Linked DNA regions of Homo sapiens: region 1 is linked to region 2. Evidence: fine-mapped expression QTL. A gene starts in region 2. The other region holds a variant in brackets. All regions are shown on one strand. Distances are between the middles of the regions. Region 1 overlaps SLC7A8 (solute carrier family 7 member 8). Region 2 holds the start of SLC7A8 (solute carrier family 7 member 8).

Region 1 (8,499 bases), 33 kb before region 2:
AGGGAAGAAAATCCTTCTCCAAGGGGAGGAGAGGGGAGGGCGAGGAAATGACAGAAAGTGCTTGAGGAAAATAAGGGCAGAGCAGGACAACTCAAAGAAATTCCTCCTCCCCCAAGCAGACCACCTCCCTGTGTGCTGGGAAAGAAAACATGAAATCATCTCTTTACAAGATGGACCTTACTGAGTCACAGAAAGACACCTTCAAACTATCAGCTCTGTGGTCTTCCTGGGGTAACAGAGATAGGGATGCTTTGTAAAATAACCTATCTGTGGCTATCTTCTGTCTTGCCTAACCTTATCTCCATCACTTCCCAAGAACTCAGCCCTTGACTAATATTTAACCTTTCACCTTCACAGTAATCTTTCAGAAACAAGAAGAAATTCTGAGAATGAGGTGGGGATAGGCAGGCTGCCTGTGACACCTAATCTCCTTGGAACAATGGCTGCAGGCCCCAGATCTGGCCCTTCACCCTGCAGTTGGGTGATCATACCATGTGACTGAGGGGAAAGAGGGTATCAGTCTCCTGGTACCACAAGACAGCTTCCCTCACAGCAGGCTGAAACCTGAGCCTCCACCCAGAGAGGAAAGGTCAGTGGGTGCTCGCCAAGCTCCTGCCCCGGTCAGGAGCCCTGCTGCTGGCTAGCTACTGCTTGGCACTTGTCTGTTGCGGACGATGATATTCTAGAACCCTCTCTTCTCGGCTAGACCCTGAATTCCGCATTCCTGAGACACAGTGACCTCAGGGAAGCCACATGTAGATGAGGATCATTGGCCATAGCAGCTTTGAAATGTGAGGGGCTTTTTATCCATCCATCCATCCATCCATCCATCATAGATCCATTCACCCATCCACCCATCTAGCCATCATCCATGCATCCATCCACCCACCCATCTATCCATCTATCATCCATCCATCCACCCACCCATCCAACCATCCATCATCTATCCATCCATCCATCTGTCTATCCATCCACCCATCTACTCATCCGTCATTCATGCAGGGCCTACATGTACTAGGCATTCTAGCTGGTGGGGAGGTTATTGATAAGACACAAGTCCCTGCCTTTAGGAAGTTGGCAGTATAACAGGGACGACGGGTGAAGTAAGAGATGCCCACAAAACAACGAGGTGATGGCAAAGCTATTCACGGAAGCTAGTGGGCATCTATGAGGAACCACTAACTCAGCCCAGGGGAATCAGAGATGCCTTCTATAGGAGGAGGAGACCCTGGCAACATGGAGAAATTTATAATCCTGGTCCAACTGGACAAAATAAAAAGTCATAAGACTGGTTCTTGTCCGTTGTAACCTAGTTGCGGGAGTGGTTACTGCTTCTTTAGAGGCCCTCATGGAATTCCAGGCTTGTATGTATTTTTTGGGCATTTCCTCCCCTCTTTCTTTCTTGCTTCCTGGGTAAAAAATAAGATGAAAGACTATTAAGAAGACAAGAGTTCAAGAAGATGCTGAAGTCAGGGGCTGGTTACTTAATCCACCCAGTTTGAAGAACTCAACATCAAGGTGACAGAAGAGATACAAATAATGAGTCAGGCAGGAGGAGGAAAACTCAGATTCTAGCAACCTGGAACACTGCCCAGAGTCCAGGGCCTCCCAGCTGCCAAGCAGGAGAGATGGGCTCAATGCTTTCTGCAGGACTGGCAGAGGGATTCAGAGTCCTCGCTGCAGACCTGCAACTGGCTTGCTCACTGTGGAGGGCTGGGTTCCCTACAGAGAAGGTGCCCTCAGCCCCATCCCAGCTCTGATCCCAGACTTTGATCTCCAGGAATTACAGAAGTCTCTCCTTCACTTCCTCCCCTTGGCAATGACAGCATATCTCTTTGGGATGGGGGGCAGTTGAAGGCAGAATTATGGCCATCCAAGATATCAACGTTCTAATCCCTGAGATTTGTGACTATGTTTTTTAAATGACAAAAGGAACTTTGCAAATGTGATTAAGTTAAGGATTTTTTTTTTGGAGACAGAGTTTCGCTCTTGTTGCCCAGGCTGGAGTGCAATGGCGCAGTCTCAGCTCTCTGCAACCTCTGCCTCCCATGTTAAAACGATTCTCCTGCCTCAGCCTCCCAAGTAGCTGGGATTACAGGTGTCCGCCACCACGCCTGGCTAATTTTTGTATTTTTAGTAGAGACGGGTTTCACCATGTTGGCCAGGCTGGTCTCGAATTCCTGAACTCAGGTGATCCACCCACCTCGGCCTCCCAAAGTGCTGGGATTACAGGCCTGAGCCACCGCGCCCAGCCAAGTTAAGGATCTTGAGATGGGGAGATTATCCTGGATTATCCAGAGGGACCAGTGTTGTCACAGGAGTCCTTTCAAGAGGGAGGCAAGAAGGTCAGAGTTATAAAAAGACATGTGATCATGGAAACATCAGACAGAGAGAAAGAGAGATTTGAAGATGCTACACTGCTGGCTTTGAAGATGAAAGATGGGGCCATGAGCCAAAGAATGTGGGAGGTCCCTAGAAGCTAGAAAAGGCAAGGAATTCTCCCCAGAGCCTCCTGAAGAAATTCAGGCCTGCTGACGCTAGAGTTTAGGACTTCTGACTTTCAGGACTAAGATAGTACATTTGCATAGTTTTAAACCACTAAGTTTGTGGTTACTTGTAACAGTAGCAATAGGAAATGGATACCAGACAGACATTATACAGAAAGACCAGACAGCAGGGACATACCCTTAAAGAGAAAAGCTTTTAAACAGCAGCCAGGCAACACACACCAGGAGCCCAAAAGAGTGTCTGTCCACAGGCCTTGCGGGACACCAGATGGAGGGAAGGGATGGCGCTCTCTAGAAGAGGGTAGTGAAGGTGAGGTCACTAGTGTGTTCACCTGGTTAGCAAAGTTCCACACCACATAGCCGCTTCGCACTTCTTCCAGCTTCCCAACCCTAGTTGGGATCCCACAGCTAGAGTGTTCCTATTTCCTCTTCCTCCATTTGGTAATTCAATACAGTAGCAAACAGCCTTGCCTTGTAACTCTAGCAGTGTTTTTCCTCTTTCCTTTTAGAGAAATCCAGGGCAAAAGATACAATATCCCTCCTTCATCTAATCCAGGTTCTCCCCCAGTCTCCCCTGTATTCCTTACAACTTCAGGCCCACCCACACAACCCAGATACGCAAACACTGGCCCAAGAATCACTAACTTCTTGCAAGGCGAGTGGAGTGCCAGGATGTTCACAGACATGAATCCTTTATTTTCTGCCCCCATGATTTTGTTGGTCTCCTTATTTCACTGGCCAGAAGCCACAATCAAAGGCCATAAAAGAAGTCAAGATAGAAAGCTACGAGATTATTATCCCAAGAGTCCTGAGTCTGAGTACACTCTTCACATCAGAGGGGACAGAGTGGCCCCACCGTGTACTGTCCTGTGGTAGACAACACCAAAAACACCTTGGAAGAGCTTGTCCTGTATCCTTCCGGGCTCAGTCAACCCATTTTTAACCCTAAATCAATATACAGTCATGTGCTACATAATGACATTTTGGGCAACAACAGACTATTTATACCTTGGTGGTCCCATAAGATTATAAGACCATATTTTTACTGTATCTTTTCTCTGTTTAGATATGTTTAATGCACAAATACAACTGCCTACAGTGCTCAGTACAGTAACATGCTGTATAGGTTTGTAGACTAGCAGCAACAGGTTACACCATGTAGCCTAGGTGTGTAGTAGACTATGCCACCTAGTTTCATGTCAGTACACTCTATGATGTTTGCATAATGACTAAATCATCTAAGGATACATTTCTCAGAATGTATCCCCATCATTAAGCAATGCATGACAGTATTATAGATTATAGGTAAAAGAGACAATTTAAAATTAATTTCTTTAGTGCCTTTTGAAATAGAACACCAATGAATCATTAGCATAAACAAATAAATCTTCATTTAGAAGGTTTTAAGGATGGGTTGGGGAGTCGTGGAGCTGGTTTTAAGTCCCTGCAATCGTCCAGAGCTGAGGCTGTGATCTTATCACTCTTCCCCTCAACTCTACCTAGTAGCACCTGGTAAGTGAAGGATGATGTGGGTTTCTGGAGTCTTTTTCGGGCGTGGAACAAGTGAACGGAGCTCAGAGGAGCTTGTGTAAGGTGTGAAGTGGTAAGAAT[G/T]GGGAGGAGGATCACCAGCAGCATGAAGGGAAGGAGGCAGAGTCGGCTCTCTCAGAGGGACCTGGCAGGTCTGAATCTGAGAATCACAGAACTTTTGAACTTGAGGAACTCAGCGGCCATGGTGCCCTTCCCAGCTTAGTCACGTACTCTCAGTTAACCTCTCTGAGCCTCCCTTTTCTCCATGTAAAACCTATGGTCCATTTGAATCATGTGACGATACTCTGTATCCTGTGTATTGTTGCATAAAATGTTAAATGATTATTTTTATTGTTCATCTTAAGAAACTGCAGACTAAGAAAGTCAAAAAGAGCATGTGATTTGCTCAGGATCATGCTGACACTCACAGGCAAAGCAGAGTGGCGGGGAATGGGAATGGTTTGAAGGATTTTAGAGACCATATCATGCATCAGACCACATTGTACATCGTGCCCCTGACCCTTCTCAATTTCTAATCTGTTTCATCTTTTTCTCTGGAGGATGCTCCTTCACAAATGACCTGCTCTGGGGTCCTTCAACCCAGCTGTCTGGAAGTTGGGAGTGGGTCACAGGTACAGGCTGTGGGGCTGGGGAGCACAGGCTAACGCACTGGACCAGAAGCCCAGATGGTCAAACATATTCCCGTGCCTCAGTTTCCACTAGTGAAGAAAATACCACCAGGTCTTATAAGTCACGTGCCTCTGTCTGCTAGGGAGGAACACCCTGCAGAAAGCTGAAGAGCTGTGCGGTTGCTGCCCGTGCTGCCCCACTCCTCAGGCCCCACGGAGACTGTCCACAGCCAGCGGTGCACACGCAGCCATAAACAATCCCCTGGTGGCTGGTGTGGCCTTGAGGTCCTGTCTGGCACACAGTAGGCGCTAAAGCTTACTGAATGGAAACGACAGATAGATACATCTACACAGAAAATTCAAGGAGGGTGCACATAGAAGCCACCGTGCTGCTCTAGGGAGTAAATATCAGGTTTAATATGTCATAGGATGGCCCATGAAGCAAGGCCAGCAAGTGCCCCGGATGCCAGACAGAGTTGTGGGGAGAGGGTACATATTGTGGCTGTCTCTCCTTCCTCTAGGAAAGCTCACAAAGTACAGCCAGGCACAGTCACTGACACCTGTAATCCCAGTGACAGTAGAGACTGAGGTGGGAGGATCAATTGAGGCCAGAAGTTCGAGGCCAGCCTGGGCAACACAGCAAGATCCTGTCTCTTAAAAAATAACAGAAAATTAGCCAGATGTGGTGACACATACCTGTAGTCCCAGCTACAAGGGAGGCTGGGGTGGGAGGATCACTTGAGCCCAGGAATTCAAGGCTGCAGTAAGCTGTGATTGTGCCATTGCATGCTGGCCTGGGTAACCCTGTCTCTTAAAAAAAAAAAAAAAAAAAAAAGCAAAAAGCTTGCTGGGCACAGTGGGTCATACCTGTAATCCCAGCACTTTGGGAAGCTGAGGCGGATAGATCACTTGAGTTCAGGAGTTTAAGACCAGCCTGGCCAATATAGCAAAACCCTGTCTCTATTAAAAACACAAAAATTAGCATGCCTGTAATGCCAGCTATTCGGGAGGCTGAGAATCACTTGAACCTGGGAGGCAGAGGTTGCAGTGAGCCAAGATCGTGCCACTGCACTCCAGCCTGGGTGACAGAGATTCCACCTCAAACAAAACAAAACAAAAACAAAACAAAACAAAAGCAAAGAAAAAAAAAGCTCACTAAGAGTACACGTTATTCCCAGAGAGAGACTACTTGATAACTGTTTTCTTTTTTTTGAGAGCAGTCTCATTCTGTCACCCAGGCTGGAATGCAGTGGCCTGATGTTGGCAAACTACAATCTCTGCCTCCTGGGCTCAAGCAGTCCTCCCACCTCAGCCTCCTGAGTAGCTGGGACCACAGGCATGTGCCACCACGCCCAGCTAATTTTTTGTATTTTTGGTAGAGATGGGGTTTCGCCATGTTGCCCAGGCTGGTCTTGAACTCCTGAGCTCTAGCAATCTGCCCACTTTGGCCTCTCAAAGTGCTGGGATTACAGGCATGAGCCACCAATGTTTTCTTTTTTTTGAGACAGGGTCTTACTCTGTCATCCAGGCTGGAGTGCAGTGGCATGATGATGGCTCACTGCAGTCTCAACCTCCCCAGACTCAGGTGATCCTCCCACCTCAGCCTCCTGAGTAGCTGAGGTGTGTGCCACCAGGCCCAGCTAATTTTTGTATTTTTTGTAGAGACGGGTTATGCCAGGTTGCCCAGGCTGGTCTCTAGAACTCCTGGGCTCAAGTGAGCCACCTGCCTTGGCCTCCCAAAGTGCTGCGATTACAGGCATGAGCCGCCACACCCGGTGATGTTTTCAGGTGCTCCCTTGCTTTGGATACAGGACTCTGGCTTCTCATTGAGCTGGGCCAGCAGGGGGTCATTTTGTGCCTCCCTCAGGGAGCCAATGAACATTCCCACATGGATCCCTGAACCAATCTCATTTCTTCTACTAAGCCAGCTGCCACTCGATGAGCCACACTATTCTGGTCTGACAGGGTAAAGGTTGGGATAGGGCCACCTGGATACGGGGCTGGATTGGTTGTTATAAGGACAGTGCTAAGAAGAATGAACCAGTTGGGACTCTCCTTGTAGTCAACTCTTGGCCCTAGAGGTAAATATTTGAAGCCTGCGCCCTACCACCCAAGGCTTGTGTCCAGCCTCATGGGTGATCAGAAGGCAGGAATGACCTTAGAGACCCAGAACCTCATTTTATTTTTCTTTTACAGATGGGAGTCTCATTCTGTCGCCCAGGCTGAAGTGCAGTGGCATGATCATAGCTCACTGCAGCTTCCCAGTCCTGGGCTTGAGCGATCTGCCTGACTCGGCTTCCCAAAGTGCTAGGATTACAGTTGTGAGCCACCATGGCGGCCCCAGAACCTCATTTTATATGTGAGTGAATTTAGACCCCAGCTAATTCGCAGCAAAGACCAGACTGGGACAGCCCAATTCCCAGTTGCTTGTTCTGCCTCTGCCCCGCCTTCCTTCATTATACACAGATCACTCTGCTTTCCCTTGGCCGCTCCCACATCATCTCTCCTCCTGCTTGGGTCAGTGGTACCCATGGTCACTACTGCCAGTGCCACTTGGGACTCTGGGTCTGTCACCAAGACACTGGTTAGCCCCAGCCTGGACTGCTTTCTGTGCAGCAGGAAGGAAGATGCCAATATGGCAAAAGGGGAAGACTTTCACAGTTATGCCTCAGAAACCAAGAAAGGTGCATCCATTGCTCCCAGGGCTTTAGAAAGTCATTTCCCACAGGGATCTCCACCTTGGGTCCCCTCCCACCAGCCCCCTTAATCAATGTCACAGTCACATGTTCCCTCCAAACTCCCGGAACTCCATTTGGATTTCTCGGTCTCGCTGGCTTGCACCTTTCTCAGGAGTGGACTGGACTGGCTTGGAAAGGCTTGGTTTTCCTTTAACATTTCCAGAACCAGGCCACTCCTCCTTGTCTGTTCAGATAAGTGAAAACAGGCAGTAGAAAGGGGGAAAAATGTCCAGACTTGCCAAAGTCCATAAAGACAGATGGTGAAGAAGAGAGGGAAAGAGCACAAGAAACCACAGGGCGGGAGAGAGCAAGGGGAGGACAATGCAGATGAGTGGGAGAGAAAAAGGGCTTGAGAGGAGCAGAACAGAGAGAGGCCAGGACTGAAAACAGCAAGATGGAATGTACTAAGCAGACGGTTGCTGAAAAAGGAAGCAGTGACGCCACTTTGTAGAAATCAGAACGCCCTGTTCCTCTCCAAACCTGCAAAACAGGCACCTTTCTGGATGGAGCTCCCCAGCCCTCTGAAACGCCATAAATTTCACCTGGGTCATGGCCTGCCAGAAGGGTTGGCTTCTCAGCCTCACCTTTTGCTGGGGCGTTCACTTCTCTGCCTTCTGCCACGCTCTGGCCAGCTCCCACAGACTCCCTCCCCTCCAGCTGGAGCAAAAGGGGTGAGGCATGTCCCTCCCAGCAGCCCTCTGGGTCTGGGTGCCCAGGCTGGAGGTTGGAGCCGCTGGGCAGGGAAGCCGGGCCTGTGGGGGCGTGGGTGTGGCTACGCTCGGCTCTGTGATTGGCTGCACCGAGTTCCTTGGCCGCCTCCCCCGCTTGTGGAAGGAACTGAGCACGTGTTTCTAATTGTGGAAAAGCCGCTTCGGCTTGGCCTGTCCAACCGCAGGCGTTTCCAGATCTAGGAGGTAAGCAGTGCCGGCTGCCAAAAGGCGCTGATAGGCAAAGAAAACACGGAGGCCTGTTTGACCTCTAACGCACACAACCCAAGGCTCTGATAAGGTTCCAGTTCTGCCCACGCAGGCCACACGGAACAGTCTTTCCTCGTCAAAGACCCAGAGAGGCCTGGAGGTGTGGGGGAGTGGGCAGACA
Region 2 (8,499 bases):
CTCTCTCCTGGCTTCCCACCATTCACATAACTTTGCCCTACTTTAGCTCTTTCACAACTAAACCATGTCATTAATTTTGAATGTTCTCTGTTTAGTACATATGCATCTCATCCTCCCAATCAGGATATAAGGAACTCTCTGGCATAAGTCTTCTATTAATTCATTGTATATTTCCATAACACCTACCATTCTGTTATCCTTGCTTTCAATCATCCATGTTGATTGTGAATGAAATTTTACAAAACATGTAGTTTAAATTATCCCTCTTAGTCAGTAAGGTATGAGAGAGATAGATTTAGGGCAAATGTAACTTTGCCACAGTCCCTGAAAAAAAAAAAAAGATCTGGGGGCCGGGCACGGTGGCTCATGCCTGTAATCCCAGCACTGATAGGCCGAGGTGGGAGGATTTCTTGAGCCCAGGAGTTGGAGACCAGCCTGGGCGATACAGTGAGACCCTGTTTCTACAAGAAAAAATTTAAAATAGCTAGGTGTCGTGGTGTATGCCTGTGGTCACAGCTACTGAGGAAGCTGAGGTGGAAGGATCGCTTGAGCCCAGGAGTTTGAGGCTGCAGCGATGCAGTGAGCACGCCACAGCACTCCAGCCTAGGCAACACAGCGAGACACTGTCTCAGAAAAAAAAGAAAGAAAGAAAGAAAGATGGGACAAATTCTACTTTTCCATAACATGTCTCCTGATTCACTTAGAAAACTTCCTTTCTCTTTTTGACTTTTTTTTTTTTTTTTTGAGATGGAGTCTCACTCTGTCACCCAGACTGGAGTGCAGTGGCGCAACCTTGGCTCACTGCAACCTCTGCCTTCTGGGTTCAAGCAATTCTCCTGCCTCAGCCTCACGAGTAGCTGGGACTACAGGCATGCGCCACGACGCCCGGCTAATTTTTTGTATTTTTTAGTAGAGACGAGGTTTCACCGTGTTAGCCAGGATGGTCTTGATCTCCTGACCTCGTGATCCGCCCGCCTTGGCCTCCCAAAGTGCTGGGATTACAGGTGTGAGCCACCGCACCCGGCCCTTTTTTTGCCTTTTAGTTCTCTTTTTTTCTGCAGTGTTGACATTGGACACCAGATCCCTGAAATCTACACAGAAAATGCCATTTCTATTTTTGCATTTGGTCTTGAAAACACTTGAATCACGATCATCCACTGAGAAACTTCTCCAGAAGAGGAAAGGGCAGTTCCTCAGCACATCTGTGACTCAACAGCAACTCGGGAGGGGAAGCAGAATGGATTTTGTCCCCTGTTATCATCTTAAAGGGGAAATTTGTTTCTAGCTTAAGTTGGGGTAGAATAGTGCCTATTAACTCTACAAGGATTCTCATGTTTTGCAAAAATATCCCAATTTCTCTGAAATCACATATTTGGAATCTCTTTTCATCACAGAACACCAGAATTGCCATTCTAGTTACTGTAATGCCACCATGGGGAGCTTTGAGATTATTCTCCCATTGAAGTACCATCCATAAGGTTGTGGACAAATCAGTAGTAACATATACCCACAGAAATTGTACTTATTATACCTGAACACTCCCATTTCTTCATAATCTTAGAAAAAGATGTTAAAGGAAGAGACAAAAACATCAGTATATAGGAAAATACCCTCTACCCTTGAATACCTGAACCTGGAGATCGAGACCATCCTGGTTAACACGGTGAAACCCCGTCTCTACTAAAAATACAAAAAAAATTAGCAGGGCGTGGTGGTGGGCGCCTGTAGTCCCAGCTACTCGGGAGGCTGAGGCAGGAGAATGGCGTGAACCCGGGAGGCGGAGCTTGCAGTGAGCCGAGATCGCGCCACTGCACTCCAGCCTGGGCCACAGAGCGAGACTCCGTCTGAACAAAAAAAAAGAATACCTGAACCTATATTGGGAAGGGCGAGCCAGGCTGAGGCAGGAAGGATGTTTAATTGTGCTTGTGTGCCTGTGGGCGTGCGCATCTGTGTATAAGTCAGAACCTTCCTAGAGGGGGAAAATGCTTAATTCTGTCAGTCAAATTGGTGAACGGGCTATTTATAGACCTTAAACTGGCATGTGCTATACATACTGAATACTTGGCTGTTCTCATTTCTTTTGAACAATTGAGATAAAGTAAAGGAGAGGCAAAAAAAATGTCATGAGAAAAAGTAAAGAGAGATTCAGATCATGACTACAATTTTTCTTATAACATTATCTTTCTTATAACTGTAGATGGCCTGGAAAACTTCCCAGAGTCAGGGAATCACATAAAATAGGATTCCAGGGTGTAGGAGGAGTTGGTGGGGGTGGGGGGGGGATGGGATTTCATTTTAGAGACTGAAGAGAGCTTGGTCACTGAAGTTCTGGGTGTAGAGGTGAAGAGGATTATCTGAATACTGCACTGATTTTATTTGATTTCAAGAGTGCTCTCCAGTGTCACTATTGCTCAGATGCCAAAATATCTCTGAGCTATTGCATAGAACATGGCGTCAGCCAGAGAAACTGGTTCAGGGGCACCAGGACACAACGAGCTCTCATAAAGGAACTCTGGAGAGATGACAAAGAAGCATATCTATGCCTGACCGTCCTGCACTCCTTTTTCTGGGAAGAAAGTAAAGCCCCCTACCAAAGATAGCAGAACAATCTCTCACTCTGAAGTGAGGGCAGGAATAGTGAGCTATTGCCTGCCATCCATCTCCAAGGCTTCTCTGGAAAGAGGATGTGCTGTCTAGAGACGAAGCTGTATTTGGGACTCCTGCCCTGCAAAGTACATTCAGGGGGTTTGAGTGGCCTGCACTGGCACTCTTGGGGCCACCCAGGTTCCCCACCTTCAGCACCTCCCAGCTAGGACACATATTTTACCCATCAGTTCCTCCTCAACTCCATATTCTACACATTCTAGTTACTCCTGATTCCCTCTGAGAGCTTCACCGGGTCCTCCGTGGCTGTTAAGAAACAGGTGGACCCCACCAGGCAACTGGAGAAACTGCAAACTCTCCACTTACCGAGAGGCACAATCTGTCCCCTCTTTTCTTCCATAACTTCCCCATCTGTGAAATGGGAATAACAGCCCTGTCACAGCTACTTCACACAGTAAAAGTGCTGCATAAGGTGGAAAACGCTAAAATAAAAAGGCAGGGCATTGCTCTTGCTATTTTTAATACCTATCCCATAGTTTCATTTAACATAAAACTGCAAAATAGCTACCAAATATACCTTAAAAGCCCATCCCCAGCCTGGGAATAATAGCTGCATACAAACTTGTTCAGGTCCCTCAGTCCCTCCTTAAACCTATTGAACTAGAACCTCCAAGTGTCGAGACCAGGACCTGTATTTTTAAGGAGTTCCCAGGCAATGCTAATCATCAGCCGGGTTTCTGACCACGATTTGCTCCATTCTATGAACACTGGGCAGAATCTTTGCCTGGTTTGGAGGAAGAGATGTATGATGTATTTCCTATGCCTCTCAAACTTGACCAGTGGAGGTGAGTTACAGCTCAGGTGACTGACAATCCTTTTCTAAGGAATAGGAAGAACAATAATGCTTTCGAAGGGTTAAGATCTCACAGGAGGACCACCAGAGGGGAGAGGAGGGGTCCGCGGGAAGGAATGGAACTCACCTACGATGATACCACAGGCACTGACCAATCCGATCTCTTTCTTCAGGGCTACTCCGCCCCCTCCGGAACCAGCCTCGGGGCTGGCGTCCGACTCGCCCCCACCTGGGTGTTTCTTTTCGGTGTTGTTTCGGTGCCTGGCTCCTTCTTCCATCCTTCTCAGTAGGATTGCAACCTCAAAAGCTGCCTCCCTTTCTAAATGCGTATTCGTGTAAATATATTGGGAGAGAGCTTTGAATTAGAACGTCCTTTTCCGAAATAGGAACCACTGCTACTCTCTAAAAAAGGCAAGCAGATAAAAGAGAACACGAAAAATATTCCTACTCCGCATTCACACTTTCTGGTCACTCGCGTTTACAAACAAGAAAAGTGTTGCTAAAAAAAAAAAAAAAAAAAAAGGCCAGGGGAGACATACATTTAAATATAAAAATAGAACTGTGCCAGCGACTCCGGCTGGAATTCTGCTGAAAGGGATGTGTCTTCAGAAACCAGGATGGTTCTGCTCTGTGCACCAGGCAGTGGCTTATTCAGAAAGTGAGCCTGGATTTCCCTTCACCTCTCCCCCTAATAAAACAGGAGACTGCCTTTACCTCCCCTTAGTTTTTTCTTTTATGATGAAGACAAAAGTAGTTTTCATTAACGGTAGGAAAAAAGAGCAATCCTCAGGTACTTTCTTCTCTTCTAGAAAAACAAACTGTGAACCTGACGGTGTTGCTCTAGATCTGGTTTCCACCTGCTTTGGGTTTCTTTTCCCTTCCCCGTCTTCTGCTTCCGCCTTTCCCAGGTGTCCTCTTCTTTCTCGCTGGTCTTCGTGCCCTTGTTTTCCTCTTTTCGATCCCCGTTCTACTGCACAGCCGGCCCCATCCCTCTGGTTTCGGGAGAGTGGCTTCTCCACACACTAACGTGCTTCTCTTTAGCGAGGGGTTTTATTCGCCCGCCGAGGCTCCGCCCCTGCCTCCTCTGCTCCCCTCCATCCTCAGTCCCGTCTCCTCCCTCCTCTGCAATTTAAGTATTAGCACAAAGCCCCCAAACAGCACTGAGAAAATGGACTAAGTTATTTCTTTTTGCAATCGTCTCTCGCTTTCTCCATCTTTCTCCTTGCAACCAAGTGGAAGTAAACTCCTTCCACGTCAACTGTTCCGGGAGAGCTCATTAGCTAGTATAATGTTACAGGTCATACAGCATCTGTGAGCTTTATAAATCAGGGAACAGTTGTGCCGATACTTTTAATGCCATCAGAAATAAACTAGCCAATGTATTAAAAAATATTTAGGACTGGATCCTGTATTTGAGAATACAGGAGAGAACGTTGAAAGGACATCATCTTCGAGTTTCCTAAAAATAGGGGGAATCGACGGGTGGGGGAGGGAAATGGAAGGAATTAACAATGGGAAAAAGGTTCTTTTAGCGTAATTGTGAGCTACGAAGAGTACAGAGGAAACAAAATCGCCAGGCGCGGTGGCTCACGCCTGTAATCCCAGCGCTTTGGGAGGCTGACAGGGGAGGATCACGTGAGCCCAGGAGTCTGAGACCAGCCTGTGCAACAGAGCGAGACCCCGTCTACTAAAAATTTTAAAATTAGCCGGGTGCAGTGGTGCAGGCCTGTAGTCTTAGCTACTCAGGAGGCTGAGGCTGGAGGATTGCTTGAGCTCAGGAGGTCAAGGCTGCAGTGAGCTATGATGACGCCACTGCACTCCAGCCTGGGAGGTAGAGCAAGACCCTGTCTCAAAAACAAAACAAAACAAAAAGCCAGAAAAACCACATGCACATACAAAAAGATAAAAAACAAAATCACCAGGTAGCCTTGTTGTTCACAGCTCTTATTTAGGACTGGCTGAAACATGAAAAAAAATGACTCAAACCCTGATCCTGCAACTTCTAATATTTTTGCATTTATAAACTATTTGAAAAGCACACATGGGGAATTATCAGTATATCGCTGATCATGAAACATACTTGTTGATGTTAGAATAACTAGCTTATTACCATATCGAAATGATGCCTCCACTTTCTTGAAGAATTTCACTCAGAAACTGCTGCCTTAAGGTGAGAGCAACAATGTCTATTTATAATTGTAAATTATTTCGAAAAAACAGCATGAAGCAATATAGTGGACAACACTATAAGTCTAAAATAAAGTTATTTTTAGCCTTATTAAATATATTATGCAAAATTATTTAATTTTAAAGTGGGCCTAAAAAATTAAGTTCCCCCAAACTGACCCCTAACTACAAAAATTTGGCCTCACTTTCTGGAAAATGTTCCAAAAGATTTTGGGTTTTAAGGAAAATAAATACTTAATTCCTTAAAATGAGGTTTGTTGAGCTATCATAGCAAAAGCTTTTTCAAATGGGGTAAAGTCCAATCAGCAGTCATCTGCCCCCTTGATCACTCAGCAAGTATTAAGAGGTTTCAAAGGTTGGGAGGAACTTCCTCTCCTCCTTTTGCTAGTTCAAGACACAGCAAATTGAAAGACTCAGCAAAAAAAAAACAACAAACAACAACAAAAAAAACCAGACAAGGCAGGGAATATATAGCACGAAACTCCATGGGAGGGAATGAGTCATGGGAAATGAAAAAATGTCGAATTTGCCTCTAGCCTTTCCTGACAACCTTAGAAAGCACTGAGGAAAAATTTGATAGATTCATTTGTATACATTCAGATTTGAAGACTTCTGCTCCGATTTCAACATCACCATATAAAACAAATAATGTTTCTGCTTCTTAAACGTGAGTTCTTTCAGTAATATTTGGTAGTTCTAATTTATATGATGCAGACTTAATGTGGGATAAAACATGAATGTGATGAATTTGAGGTCTCTTGCTAAAACCAGTGCAAACTGATAACGATATGGTAAGCTTTAGCCCTCTCAAATTATGAACTAAGAAGCTAAGGGGGTTATGGGATCAAATACGTTCTTGGAATACAGCGGTACTAGGTGCACACGTTGGAAAGGAAGAGTTGCTGAAGATTAGTATTTCTATTTCTTTAGCACTTGGAATTTATAAGTGGCTTATTACCATTGATTACTGGTGCGATGTAATATCTAGGAAAGGGGCTGGGCACGGTGGCTCATGCCTGTAATTCCAGCACTTTGGGAGGCCGAAGCAGGTGGAGTGCTTGAACTCAGGAGTTCAAGACCAGACTGGGCAATGTGGTGAAACCCCATCTCTACAAAAAATACAAAAATTAGCTGGGTGTGGTGGCTCACGCCTGTAATCCCAGCTACTCAGGAGGCTGAGGTGGGAGGATCGTGTGAGCCATGGAGGTTGAGGCTGCAATGAGCCAAGATCGCACCACTGCACTCCAGCCTGGGTGGCAAAGTGAGACCCTGTCTTTAAAAAAACCAAACCAAAACAAACAAACAAACAAAGCTAGGAAAGGAATCTCCCCACTTTCAAAGGGAGCATTATTTATATTAAGTGCCTCTCTGTAGGTTGGAATCTTTTTGTGACATAAACTCTTAAGTGTGTCAAAATTCCAGGTGACTAACATTGAACACAAGAGAGAAAGAAAAGCCTTGGTGTAATATGTTGACAAAAATCTGTAAAAAATTACAAACTAATGTTTATTAAATTTTGAGCATTTTTTTTTTTTTTGAGAAGGAGTCTCGCTCTGCTGCTCTGGCCGGACTGCAGTGGTGCGATCTCGGCTCTCGGCTCACTGCAACCTCTGGCTCCTAGGTTCAAGTGATTCTCCTGCCTCAGCCTCCTAAGTAGCTGGGATTACAGGCACCTGCCACCATGCCTGGCTAATTTTTGTGTTTTTAGTAGAGACGGGGTTTCACCCTGTTGGTTAGGCTCGTCTTGAACTCCTAACCTTGTGATCCACCCGCCTCGGCCTCCCAAAGTGCTGGGATTACTCTATTCTGCATTTGCCTTTATATTTTTATTCTATTCTCTACGTTTAAATAGTGCTTTATAGCCCACAAATGGTTTTCTGAACAATATCTCAATTTTTTTCCTCCTCATGTAGTATCTTGGGCAGACGAGGCAGTTATCTTAAAGATTTTAAAAATTAGAAACCTGAGGCTTAAAGAAATATTTTACCTGAGGTAAAAAACAAGACAGTCTATTTGAGGGCAAATGGGAGATTGATAGTTTACACTGAGCACTTTTTCAGGATGCTATAGCTACTGGTCAAAGCCTCAATTTCTTTCACCTGAGGGAAACTCTGTGTTTTTGCTTTGGTGTCTTAACTGTGCCTTTTAGAGACTCACCTTGATCCTAACACTTATCTGCTCAGTGAGACCCACAGGACTTCACCTGGGCCCCCCCAACATTTGTCACCCCCTTCGCACAGTCCTCAGTGTGGCCATATCCCAAGTACGTAGTACAATTCTGTTTCCAATATCGGAGCCACTGTTTCAGCTGTTTTGCGTGCTTCAGATCAGAAGAAATTGATCCCTTTAACTAGGGAAAATTATGGATGAAAGGCCGTTTTCTTACAAATATGGATTTAGAAAGAGAAAGGCTGTGCGTAGCTGACACCTACTGGACAGAAAAGGTTATGGCTTGGGACATGCTGCTTGTGATAGTTAAAACACAAACACACACAACCCCCACGCAGTCATGTTCTAATATTCCCCTACTCCCCCCTTTTTTAGAGACAAGGTCTCACTCTGTCACCCAGGCTGGAGTGTAGTGGCACAATCACAGCTCACAGCAGCCTCAAACTCCTGGGCTCAAGTGATCCTCCCGCCTCAGCCTCCCGAGTAGCTGGGACTACAGATGTGCGCCACCACACCCGGGTTAATATTCCCTTTCAGAGACAAGTTAGACGTGTCTGCTAATGCAAAGGAATAGAGCACAAAGCTCATGCACTCCATTCCTGATTTTTTTTTCTAGATCCAATAGACAGCACTTTATTCTTGCTTTTTGTAACAGAGCTGGGAAGTCTGAGGTTACCAACAAAGGA

Evidence for each region. PIP is the estimated chance that this variant, and not a neighbour inherited with it, causes the effect.
Region 1: its variant is fine-mapped to the expression of SLC7A8 in whole blood (INTERVAL, PIP above 0.99).

What each region holds. Positions count from the first base shown.
Region 1 is chr14:23,146,274-23,154,772 of GRCh38, forward strand. The region is part of intron 3 of SLC7A8 (solute carrier family 7 member 8); the gene reads right to left. Among named protein-coding and RNA genes, the nearest start is that of CEBPE, 31 kb to the left of the region's middle. The variant G/T (reference allele first, on the strand shown) is at 4,119.
Region 2 is chr14:23,179,180-23,187,678 of GRCh38, forward strand. It overlaps SLC7A8 (solute carrier family 7 member 8), which reads right to left and starts at 4,481. Exons shown (of 11, transcript NM_012244.4): 1 at 3,585-4,481. The coding sequence starts at 3,735. It also overlaps a transcript of RNF212B not described here.